Homo sapiens: one gene and its partners. The protein of the gene in region 1 purifies or fractionates together with the protein of each later gene. This does not show direct contact. Each region holds a gene or a part of one and is shown on either strand. Other genes may lie near its edges.

Region 1 (3,656 bases):
CGGGTGGATCACGAGGTCAGGGGTTCGAGACCAGCCTGACCAACATGGTGAAACCCCGTCTCTACTAAAAATACAAAACAATTAGCTGGGCGTGGTGGCGGGCGCCTGTAATCCCAGCTACTTAGGAGGCTAAGGCAGGAGAATTGCTTGAACCCTGGAGGCGGAGGTTGCAGTGAGCCAAGATCGTGCCACTGCACTCCAGCCTGGGCAACAGAGCAAGACTCTGCCTCAAAAAAAAAAAAAAAAGTATAAGCCTAACTTTGTCACTAGTCCTAAGGAGAAACTTTTAACCACAAAGTTTTTATCATTGAAGACAATATTGAACAACCCCCTATTTTGTGAGGATTGAGAAGGGGTGAATAGAGGCTTGAGACTTTCCTTTGTGTGGTAGGACTTGGAGGAGAAATCCCCTGGACTTTCACTAACCCTCTGACCTACTCCCCACACCCAGTTGATGGCTTTCCATAATAAGATTGGGATTTCCTTTAAAAAAAAAAAAAAAAGAGGCCAAACTGCATTCTTCTTAGAAGGTCTATTCAGTTGATAAATGGCACTTAACTGATGGTTTTTTCATATAACCTTTAACAAGAACTCATAAGTTGCATTGATTATGCCCCAAGAGATGAGGGACCGATGGTAATTCAGATGGGCACCTCTGAAAAGATTTATCAGTTTTCTGTCCCGTTCCAGCCAGATTTTTTGGAAAACCTTGGGGAAAGACTGAAATTCCCCACCAATCTGAGACTGTATGCGAGTTTTTACAACATTAATTGGAAAAAACAAGAATCCCAACATGGCACCCAATAGACCTCCACAGATAAAATCATTGACCAGATGAGCACTGTGAGTCGTTGCGGTAGGCAGATGCTCCTTAATGGGACCTCGAAGGCCGAAAAACAAGACATTGCTGAGTCCATTCCGGAAAAGAATGGGCACCAAGCCTCGATAATACTCTCCAATTCCATGACATTTCAGTGCCTTGAAAGCCTGGTAAGTGTTGGTAAATTTGTCATGATGCTTGTGGTCTTGAAGCAATGTCTGAACTCTTTCCAGTGGAGTGAAAATTGCTTCTGTTGTCCCTGCAAGCACTGCCGCCACGCCACTGGTTGCAAACTCTGGAGCACTGACATGCTTGTGGAGAAGGCAGGATAAATCCTCATACAGACCAAACATAAGTGCAAGCGTAGTTGTCTTCTGCATCAATGGGGGAAGGATTCCACGATACAAATTTCGAAATCCATCCCTTCTCAACTGAAGTATTGCATCCCGGGTTTTGATGCCATACAGCTGTTGTCGAAAGAGGACCTTCTGAATGGGAAATGTGATTGCGACATTGTTGAAGGCTGCACAGCAGCCACACAAGTAATGCTTCATCTCACCAACATTTGTAATATGAGGTGATATATCTTGTTTTGAAGATGTTAGTATTGGTGGCCTCTTTTCATGAGCTTCTGAATCCATCATGCTGCTTAAGATCTTTCTTTTTCATGAAGGACTTTTTTTAACCTACAAATAATAAATGACAACGGGTAAACCCGTTTTATAGAGAGCTAAACACATGGGCTTTCTCCCTAATCCATCCTCTAATATCTGGACACCACACTTTCCTTTTCAGACTAGATCAGTGATTCTTAAAGCATTTTCAGAAGACCCCTGGAAGTCCCTGAGATCCTTTTGGGAGTCCAGGAGATTTTCCTTTTTCAAACTACATATCTATGTGAGGCTTGATTTTTTGCATATACTTTAATCAAAATGACTTATCACAACAGACTGAATGCAGCAAACAGGAAACTCCATCTTAAGTCAGACATGCAAAAGGCTTAGAAAACTGTAAAATATTTTCTAATGACTGTAAAATCATTAGAAAAAAATGGGAGGCATGAATGTTATTTTTCATGAAAATGTGTTAACATGTAATGTGTTTATCATTACCTTAAAATTCATATTTTAATTTTAAATTCCTAAAGACCCTGAATATCAGTCCACATAAACAAAGGGTGTTTGGGGCCCACAATCATTTTTAAGACTGTAAAGGAGTCCTAACACCAAAAACTTTCAGAGCCACTAGACTAGTTCGTAATTACTGACTACACTATATACGGTATCTATCTATTGTCCTGCTGAAATAGGCCCACATTCCTCCCCTGAGAAATAAAACAGCAAGACATGCACTCATTCTATTCATATTTATACTTCTTTGGTACCTACTATGAACTAGGTCCTCTGCTAAGTTGCTAGAGATTCAAAGATAAGGAATTCACAAACTAATAGAATGTGCCAAGGTGAACAATTACACCAATGTGACAGCTTCTATGATAACCAACCATTGTGGGAACACAGGTAAGGGACACTGAACATGCACCTTGGAAGGTGGAGGTGTGGGATGATGGGGGCAAGGAAGGCCTACAGGTATGTACCATGCACTCTATTTTCATGTATGAATTCTCAAAACAACTCCACAATTATTTTTCCAGTTTTACAAATGAATAAAACCAGTATTCTCTTTTGTTCTGTTCAGGGCACAGCTAGTAACTGGTGGGGTCAGCATTCTGAAATGAAGTCTGAGTGATTCCAGGGCTCATATCCCTGCTACCATATCACAGATGGCAATGACTTTGTGAGGCTGCCCTGGGATAAGAGGTGGCTATACTAGATACTGCTGAAAATGATTGGAACTAAGCCAAAGTTCCACCCCTATAATACACCTCCTTCTGTAAAATGCATGATCTTTCCTTGCCAGTCATCTAAATCTGATTCCTTCTCCCTGAAAAAATCCAGATCCAAATAGCTGGGTCATACAGAATAATTCCCACCTTCCAGTTCTGGTCTTGGAAATCACCTTTATTTGGGGGATAACATGATAACTGTATATTGTATCTTAGATATAATAGAAATATATAGAAACTTCTATATATTAGAAATATATATAAATATATACACACATATGTGTATGTGTGTGTGTATATGAGGCTAAATATTTTTTAATTGGATTTTAATTCCTTAACAGTAAGATACTGGCCAGGCATGGTGGCTTATGCCTGTAATCCCAGCACTTTGGGAGGCTGGGGCAGGAGGATTGCTTGAATCACGAGTTTGAGACCAGTGTGGGCAACATAGAGAGATCCCATGCCTATGAAAAAGTTAAAAATTAGCTGGGCATGGTAGCACATGCCTGTAGCCCCAGCTATGTGGGATGCTGAGGTGGGAGGATCAATTGAGCCAGGGAGGTCAAGGCTGCAGTGAGCCATGATTGCACCACTGCACTCCAGCCTGGGCAACAGAGCAAGACTCTTGTTTCTAAAAATAATAACAATAATTTAAAAATTAAAAATAGTAGTCAGGCGCAGTGGCTCACACTTGTCATCCCAGCACTTTGGAAGACCAAGGTGGGAGGATTGCATGAGGCCACAAATTTGTGCCCAGCCTGGGCAACATAGTGAGACTCTGCCTCTACAAAAATCAAAATAAATTTTTGGGGCATGATGGCGTACACCAGCTACTGGGAAGGTGGAGGGAGAAGGACCTCTTGAGCCCAGGAAGTTCAGGCTGCAGTGAGCTGTGTTCATGTCACTGCGTTCCAGCCTGGGTGACAGAGTAATACCCTGCTTTAAAAAAAAAAAAGAACATACGATCCAACAATCCTACTTCTGGGGATA
Region 2 (3,656 bases), on another chromosome or scaffold:
AATTCATCAAAGTATCAATAGTGGCTGCCTCTTGGTGGTGGCAATAAGAGTAACTTTAACTACATTTTTTATACTTTTCTGCATTTCCAAATTTTCTACAATGAACATGTGATATACTTATAAGCAGGAAAAAAAATCCCTTAAAGTGGTTGAGTGGAGGAGTTTGAACTTTACTTGTTTTGTATCTGCCAAATTTATGCCAATTTACAGTGAGAGAAGAAATGTAGATAACACAAGAATCAAACAAAAAGAACTCTTTGAGATAACCAAGAGTTGGTTTTATTTGCCTACTTCAAAAGGTTGTTTTGTGAGTTCTTAAGTAACTATAAATATTTATACAGGTGTTGCTACAATGCCAGAAAATTAAAATAATGAGGATAATTATTTATATTACAAAATATTAATGATATCACAAGATCACATAAGCATTGTACAATTCCACTAGATACATGGAAACCTTCTCTGTGCATTTTTTTTTTGAGACAGAGTTTCGCTCTTGTTGCCCAGGCTGGAGTGCAATGGCGCGATCTCGGCTCACCACAACCTCCGCCTCCTGGGTTCAAGCGATTCTCCTGCCTCAGCTTCCTGAGTAGCTGGGATTACAGCCATGTGCCACCACGCATGGCTAATTTTGTATTTTTAGTAGAGACAGGGTTTCTTCATGTTGGTCAGGCTGGTCTCAAACTCCTGACCTCAGGTGATCCGCCTGTCTTGGCTTCCCAAAGTACTGGGATTACAGGTGTGAGCCACCGTGCCCGGCCTCTGTGCATTTTAATTATGGTTCAGTTTCTAAAAATTCTGTTTGCAAGCCACTTTTCAGGGCAGCATATCTAATGTGTTCAGCAAGATAAGATTAAACCATATAAAGTTATTGTAAAACTTGGGGTAGCTGGATTTGATACATACACTTAAAACACAACTGACAAAAATCATATCTAGTTACTTCAGTTGTCCTCAAAGGACCATGGAGTAGAAGCTGAAACATATAGTCATCTTCATCATTGTCATTATGACCATCATCTCATTTTTTTAGATTTCAGCATAATTTTATATATAGCCATGCATCATACATTCTGAGAAATGCATTGTTAGGCCATTTCATCATTGTGTGAACATCAAGATGTGTACTTCCACAAACCTAGATGGTGTAGCCTACTGCACACCTAGGCTATGTGGCATAGCCTATTGCTTCTAGGCTACAAAGCCAGACAGCATGTTACTGTATTGAATACTGTAGGCAAATGTAACACAATAGTATTTGTGTATCTAAACGTAGAAAGGGTACAGTGAAAATATGGTATAAAGATAAAAAATGGGATACTTGTGTAGGGAACTTATCATGAATGGAGTTTGCAGGATTAGAAGCTGCTCTGGGTGAGTCAGTGAGTCAGTGTTGAGCGAATATGAAGGCCTAGTACATTACTGTACACTACTGTAGACTTTAAAAACACTGTACACTTAAGCTATACCTAATTTGTAAAAACCATTTTTTCTCTCTCCAATAATAAGTTAACCTTATCTTACTATAACTTTTTTACTTTATAAACTTTTTAATTAGGCCGGGTGTGGTGGCTCATGCCTGTAATACCAGCACTTTGGGAGGCCGAGGCAGGTAAACCACCTGAGGTCAGGAGATTGAGACCAGCCTGGCCAACATAGTGAATCCCCATCTCTACTAAAAATACAAAATTTAGCTGGGCATGGTGGCACATGCCTGTAATCCCAGTTACTTGGGAGGCTGAGGCAGGAGAATTGCTTGAAACTGGGGAGGCGGACGTTGCAGTGAACTGGGATCACCACGCCACTGCACTCCAGTCTGGGAGGCAAGAAAGAAACGTCATCTCAAAAAAACAAAAACAAAAACAAAAACAAAACAAAAAACCCCCAAACTTTTAAATTAAAAAAACCTTTTTGACTCTTTTTGTAATAGCACTTAGCTTAAAACACATTGTATAGCTATACAAAAATATTCTCATTATTTATAACATTATTTTATAAACTTTTTTCTATTTTTAAAACTTTAAATTTTTTCTTTCCTTTTCACACTTTTTTGTTAAAAACTAAGATACTCACGCCTGTAATCCCAGCACTTTGGGAGGCTGAGGCGGGCGAATCATTTGAGGTCGGGGGTTCAAGACCAGCATGGCCAATATGGTGAAATCCCGTCTCTACTAAAAATTCAAAAAATTAGCTGGGCATGGTGGTGAGTGCCTGTAATCCCAGCTACTAGGAAGCTGAGGTGGGAGAATTGCTTGAACCTGGGAGGCGGAGGTTGCAATGAGGTGAGATTGTGCTGCTGCACTCCAGCCTGGGCGACTGAGACTCTGTCTCAAACAAACAAACAAACAAACAAACAAAACTAAGATACAGACACATTAGCCTTAGCCTACACAGGCTCAGGATTATCAGTATCACTGTATCTATTTACACATCCTGTCCGTTGGAAGGTCCTTCGGGGCAATAACATGCATGGAGCTGTCATCTCCTGTAATAACAATGCTGTTTTCTGGGATACCTTCTGAAGGACCTGCCTGAGGCTGTTTTACAGTTAAACTTCTTTTCACTTTTTTTTTTTAATTAAGTAGGAACACACCCCAAAATAATGATAAAAAGTATAGTACAGTAAATGTATAAACCAGTAACAGTTGTTTATTATCAAGTATTATATACTATACATAATTGTATGTGCTATACTTTTATACAACTGGCAGCACAGGTTTGCTTACACCAGCCTCATCACAAGCACATGAGCGATACATTGTGCTACAACAACATTGCAATAGCGATGATGTCACTAGGCTGTAGGAATTTTTCAGCTCCATTATAATTTGTGGGACCACTGTCATATATGTGGTTTGTGGGTGACCAAAATATTGTCAATGTGCTGCATGGCTGTCTATTATCTATTTTATCCTGGTAAGTCTGTTATTATCATCACTTTCATGAGAGAACTAAGGTATGAAACAAATAAATGGCTTTTCCAAGGTCACACACACAGCAAGGTGTAAAATTCACATCTCTTAATCATTGATTTGCTGTTCTTATATCACTATCTATAAAGTGGAACTGGATTCTCAGCATTAATAAAACTAATAAAATCTTGATATTGTATAGAGCTTTATATTTTACAAATTCTTTGACAGATTATCTAATTTCAGTCTGAGAACATTACTATGAGATAAAACCACGAGGTGATACTGAATTGAGTCTTTATCAAACAGCTTCTGATGTCTTATATTGTGGCAGGCAGTATCTCAGGTGGCTCTCAATGATTTGGTTCCTGTAGGTATTCCTCCCACTGTGTAATCCCTTCCCCTTGAATTAGGCTGAAACTAGTGACTTGTCTCTAATGAGGAACACAGCAGAAGCCATGGGATATCACTTCTGATATCAGGTTACAAAAAGACCTTGGCTTCTATTTTGCTATCTTTCAATCTTAGCCCTTGCTCCAAGGACAGCAAGCTGCAACATCTGCATGAAGCACTCTGTTTTGTTAGTAGCCCTATAGAGAGGTCCATGTGGTAGCAAAAGAACGTCTCCAGCCAGCAGCCAGCTGGGACCTGAGGCTTGTCAACAGCCACGTGAGCGAGCTTGGAAGCGTTACCTTTCCCCAGTTGAGCCTTGAGATGTCTGCAGTCTCGGCTGAAACTTTGCAG
Region 3 (3,656 bases), on another chromosome or scaffold:
ATGTTAGGAAACTCATATTTACATTTTTTATTTTTGCAGTCAGTCACATTATTTATGCTTCACATGCAAGCAGGTGTTGGCTTACTTTTGTGGTCTGTTGTTCTAACAGCAGTTTAATTTTCAGTATTGTTTTGCTCTGTTTGGTTTATCGGATATCACTGAGGCTGACATTTGTCCCAGATCATATCGCCTGAAGGAGCAGAAAGGTTTCCCTAGGTCAGGCTTCCAGGTGCCTCTCAGTTGGGGTAGGTATGGTGGGACACTTCTACTGGCGCCCTGCACTGTTGGTGTCTCTATGGGTAGGAGAGGACAGTCATACACCCACTGAGACAGAGCCTTCCCAGACTGGGCCGCTTGCCATCACTTTATGCCTCGTGTCTGTTCTACCCTCCCACCTCGATATCTCTAGGTGAAAGTGGGACATCTCAGGCCTGGGGAGAAGGCAAATGCTTCTTTTGTCCACTGTTGTTGGTGGGGTTTCTGAAGATCCCCCCTTACCTGTGGTGTTGGGCCTACCTGATGTTGTCAGAGGGACTCTGAGGGAGGAGTAAGCTTACCTGGGCTGCCCTCTGTTGTTCAGTTGGGTATCAGGAATGGCCAGGACTAGGTTTCTTTCTTCTGCTGGGTGGGAAACATAGGATACCCTTGCTCTTTGTTTTTCCCTGGGTCTCAAACCAGTTTGCCTTCTCCTTACAACCTTCCAGAGTTCTACCCTGGTTGTCTCTTGCATTATTTCCAGGGTTTATACTTGTGCTTAGCAGGGAGGAACAATGAAAAACAGGTCTGTACTACATGTCCAGACCAGAAATCTCCCTCAGTTTTTAAGAGTGTAAAATTGTCCTGAGACCACAAATTTTGAGAACTGTTGGCCTTACAGAAAGATGAAGTAATTAAGCTCCCCATAGGATTTGGAGGCCCACCGAAGGGCACCCTACCCAAATCCAGCCTGCCACTACACTAAAATTCTCAGTTCTATATGAGCACTTTCCAAAGGGCTATTTTAGGTGATGGCACTTTGGGGAGCACTATACAGTCACTGTCTTATCTTATTAACTGGTTGCTATGCATTGCATTGTCGAAGACTATAAAAGTTCTCCAGGATGGGTCACGGGATTGGCAGGCAAGCACTGGAAGAGAAAGTCAAGTTCAAGAGACGCTCTCTATGCTGTCCTAGTTGCCTGCAGGGTAACAGAGGGTGTTGGAGGGTTGAGGGTGAAGGGATGAGGATACAGAAATTATGAAAGATTCAGAGGAAATTGCATAGAGGGACTAATTCCTGTCCATCTTCCCAATTTTGCATACCCAAAGACTTATTTATTTCATATTTTTCTTACTTAATGACAGCAGTCAGACAAAAAGAACTTAAAGGATTGACAAACACTTTTAAAAAGTAAAAGAAAAAAAATCGTTGTACTGATTACTCTTGGTTTCATGGATTCAATATCTGTGTTCTCTGTCACAGCCAGGTCACCTGGTCCAGCTGCTTTCCTGCCAGAAGCTGGCTGTTTACATGGCAACCAATGCACTGATAAATTAAGAAAAGTGCCTGAATGCAAACAAAAATGCAGCACTTTTTAACTCCATACAGTTTCCCTCTTCCCAATATTCTCCTCCCCATGCTTTCCTGGTTTCCATAATGCCTCCTCCAAAAAGGAAATTGGCTTTCAGAAAGCAGCTAATCTTTCCAACAAAAACTTCACTGGAGAAAGATGGTTCCCTCCCACCCTCAAAGAGCCCATTTCATTTCTCCTGGAAGTTAGCCACATCTCTGGCCGTGCTTAAATGATGACTTCCAAATGTCTTTAAAGTGTCCAAAATAAAAAGGATAAAACTGGGGTTTTGGTAGCCCTTAAAGTTCCCAGACTTATTCCCTAAAAACAGAGATTTTAGAGATATTATTTGGCCATAATTTTTGTTCTCTAGTTTGGGACCCAGTATCTGTTACGAGATTGGTTAAGGGTGAGAATTTATGAACAGATAAGGCAAAACAATAAACAAAACCCCACAAACCCCCTTTGAAGACCACTCTTGGAAAAAGTGTTTGATGGCAGAGTACACACAGTACTCACACAAGTCAAGCCATGGAAGAGGCTGTGGAGCCTAGCAACAAATATCAATTGAGCACCCATTTTGTGCCACAAACAGTGCTGAACACTGGGGAAACAAGAATGAACATGACAGACACAATCTCTGCCATCCCTCAGTGCAGCAGGAAGCCATTTATAGCACAGATGAGAATAGAGGTGAATGAAAATCAAGGATTTGGAAAATATAAATCTGATTCAAACATTTCTAACATTTTAAATATAGAAGATATATAAATGTGTAACTAATTAGAAATCTGCAAAAGTTTAATAATATCACCTTGGAATTAGGATGGTAATTTCAAATTTTAAAGTGAGACAATATTTTTTGAGGTACTACACATTGTCATGTAAATAAGTAACAGTTGGCAAAGCAAAACCTCCAGGCCATTTTATTGCCCAGATTCCCAATTCTTAGCACCATAACCAATTAAATTCTGAAGAAAAGATGTTTTTCAGACATTGTCCAACCATGATATAGTGATGATATGCTTCAGAGCTAAAAGTTATATATTTCCAGATGAGCCTTTTTAAAATGTCACATCATTCAATTAGTGCACATTACTTAAAACCTCTGAGCTCACCCTTACAGTGCTGTCCAACAGAACTTCCTGTGATGATGGAAATGTTCTATCTCTGCGCCATCCAGTTCAGTAGCCCAAATAGAATTATCAAACACTTGAAATGTGGCTAGTGAAACTGAGGAACTGACTTTATAATTTTCATTAATCTGAAGTGATTTAAATTTCAATAGCCACATGTAGACAATGGGCAGTGCAAACTTAGTCCTAAAGTGGAGGTGATTCTCTGAGTGTCAGGGAAAAAAGTTCCCTTCCTTTGGATTAAGTCATTCTAAGTTGAGAAATTATTTAAAAATTGAATAAGTCAGAAAAATCTCTACATCAATAGGACTGTGAATAAATAGCAAAGTAAAGATTAGTATCTGATTTAAACAAAACCCAAGAACGCAATGTCCCTCTCTGACTTGACCAAATTTAAAAACAAAACAAAAATGCATATGTGGTTGAAATATGTGTAATCTCTTTTAAAAACCAGTGCTTACCTGCACGTTGTGCACATGTATCCTAAAACTTAAAGTATAATAATAATTAAAAAAGTGCTTATTATTAAAGAAAAATAATCCAAGATGTACACACTTAATCAACATTTAAAAATATTTTTAGGCTGGGCGCAGTGGCTCACGCCTGTAATCCCAACACTTTGGGAGGCTGAGGTGGGCGGGTCGCCTGAGGTTGGGAGTTCAAGACCAGCCTGACCAACATGGAGAAACCCTGTCTCTACCAAAAATACAAAATTAGCCGGGCGTGGTGGTGCATGCCTGTAATCCCAGCTACTCAGGAGGCTGAGGCAGTAGAATCACTTGAACCCGGAAGGCGGAAGTTGCGGTGGGCCGAGATCGTGCCATTGCACTCCAGCCTGGGCAACAAGACTTAACTTCGTCTCAAAAGAATATATATATGTGTATATATATATATATATATATATATATATATATATATATATGTGTGTGTATATATATATATATATGTGTATATATATATATGTGTATAT

What was found.
Region 2: the proteins of SLC25A51 (region 1) and HTR1E purify together in Homo sapiens (co-immunoprecipitation; one large-scale study listed by IntAct). This does not show direct contact.
Region 3: the proteins of SLC25A51 (region 1) and VSIG1 purify together in Homo sapiens (co-immunoprecipitation; one large-scale study listed by IntAct). This does not show direct contact.

The regions. Positions count from the first base shown.
Region 1 is NC_000009.12:37,887,087-37,890,742, forward strand, and holds the end of SLC25A51 (mitochondrial nicotinamide adenine dinucleotide transporter SLC25A51), read right to left. Parts: intron 1,507-3,656; 5' UTR 1,465-1,506; coding exon 571-1,464; 3' UTR 518-570; downstream 1-517. UniProt on the Homo sapiens protein: Mitochondrial membrane carrier protein that mediates the import of NAD(+) into mitochondria. Mitochondrial NAD(+) is required for glycolysis and mitochondrial respiration.
Region 2 is NC_000006.12:86,943,940-86,947,595, reverse strand, and holds part of HTR1E (5-hydroxytryptamine receptor 1E), read right to left. Parts: intron 1-3,656. UniProt on the Homo sapiens protein: G-protein coupled receptor for 5-hydroxytryptamine (serotonin). Also functions as a receptor for various alkaloids and psychoactive substances.
Region 3 is NC_000023.11:108,047,914-108,051,569, reverse strand, and holds part of VSIG1 (V-set and immunoglobulin domain-containing protein 1 isoform 2 precursor), read right to left. Parts: intron 1-3,656.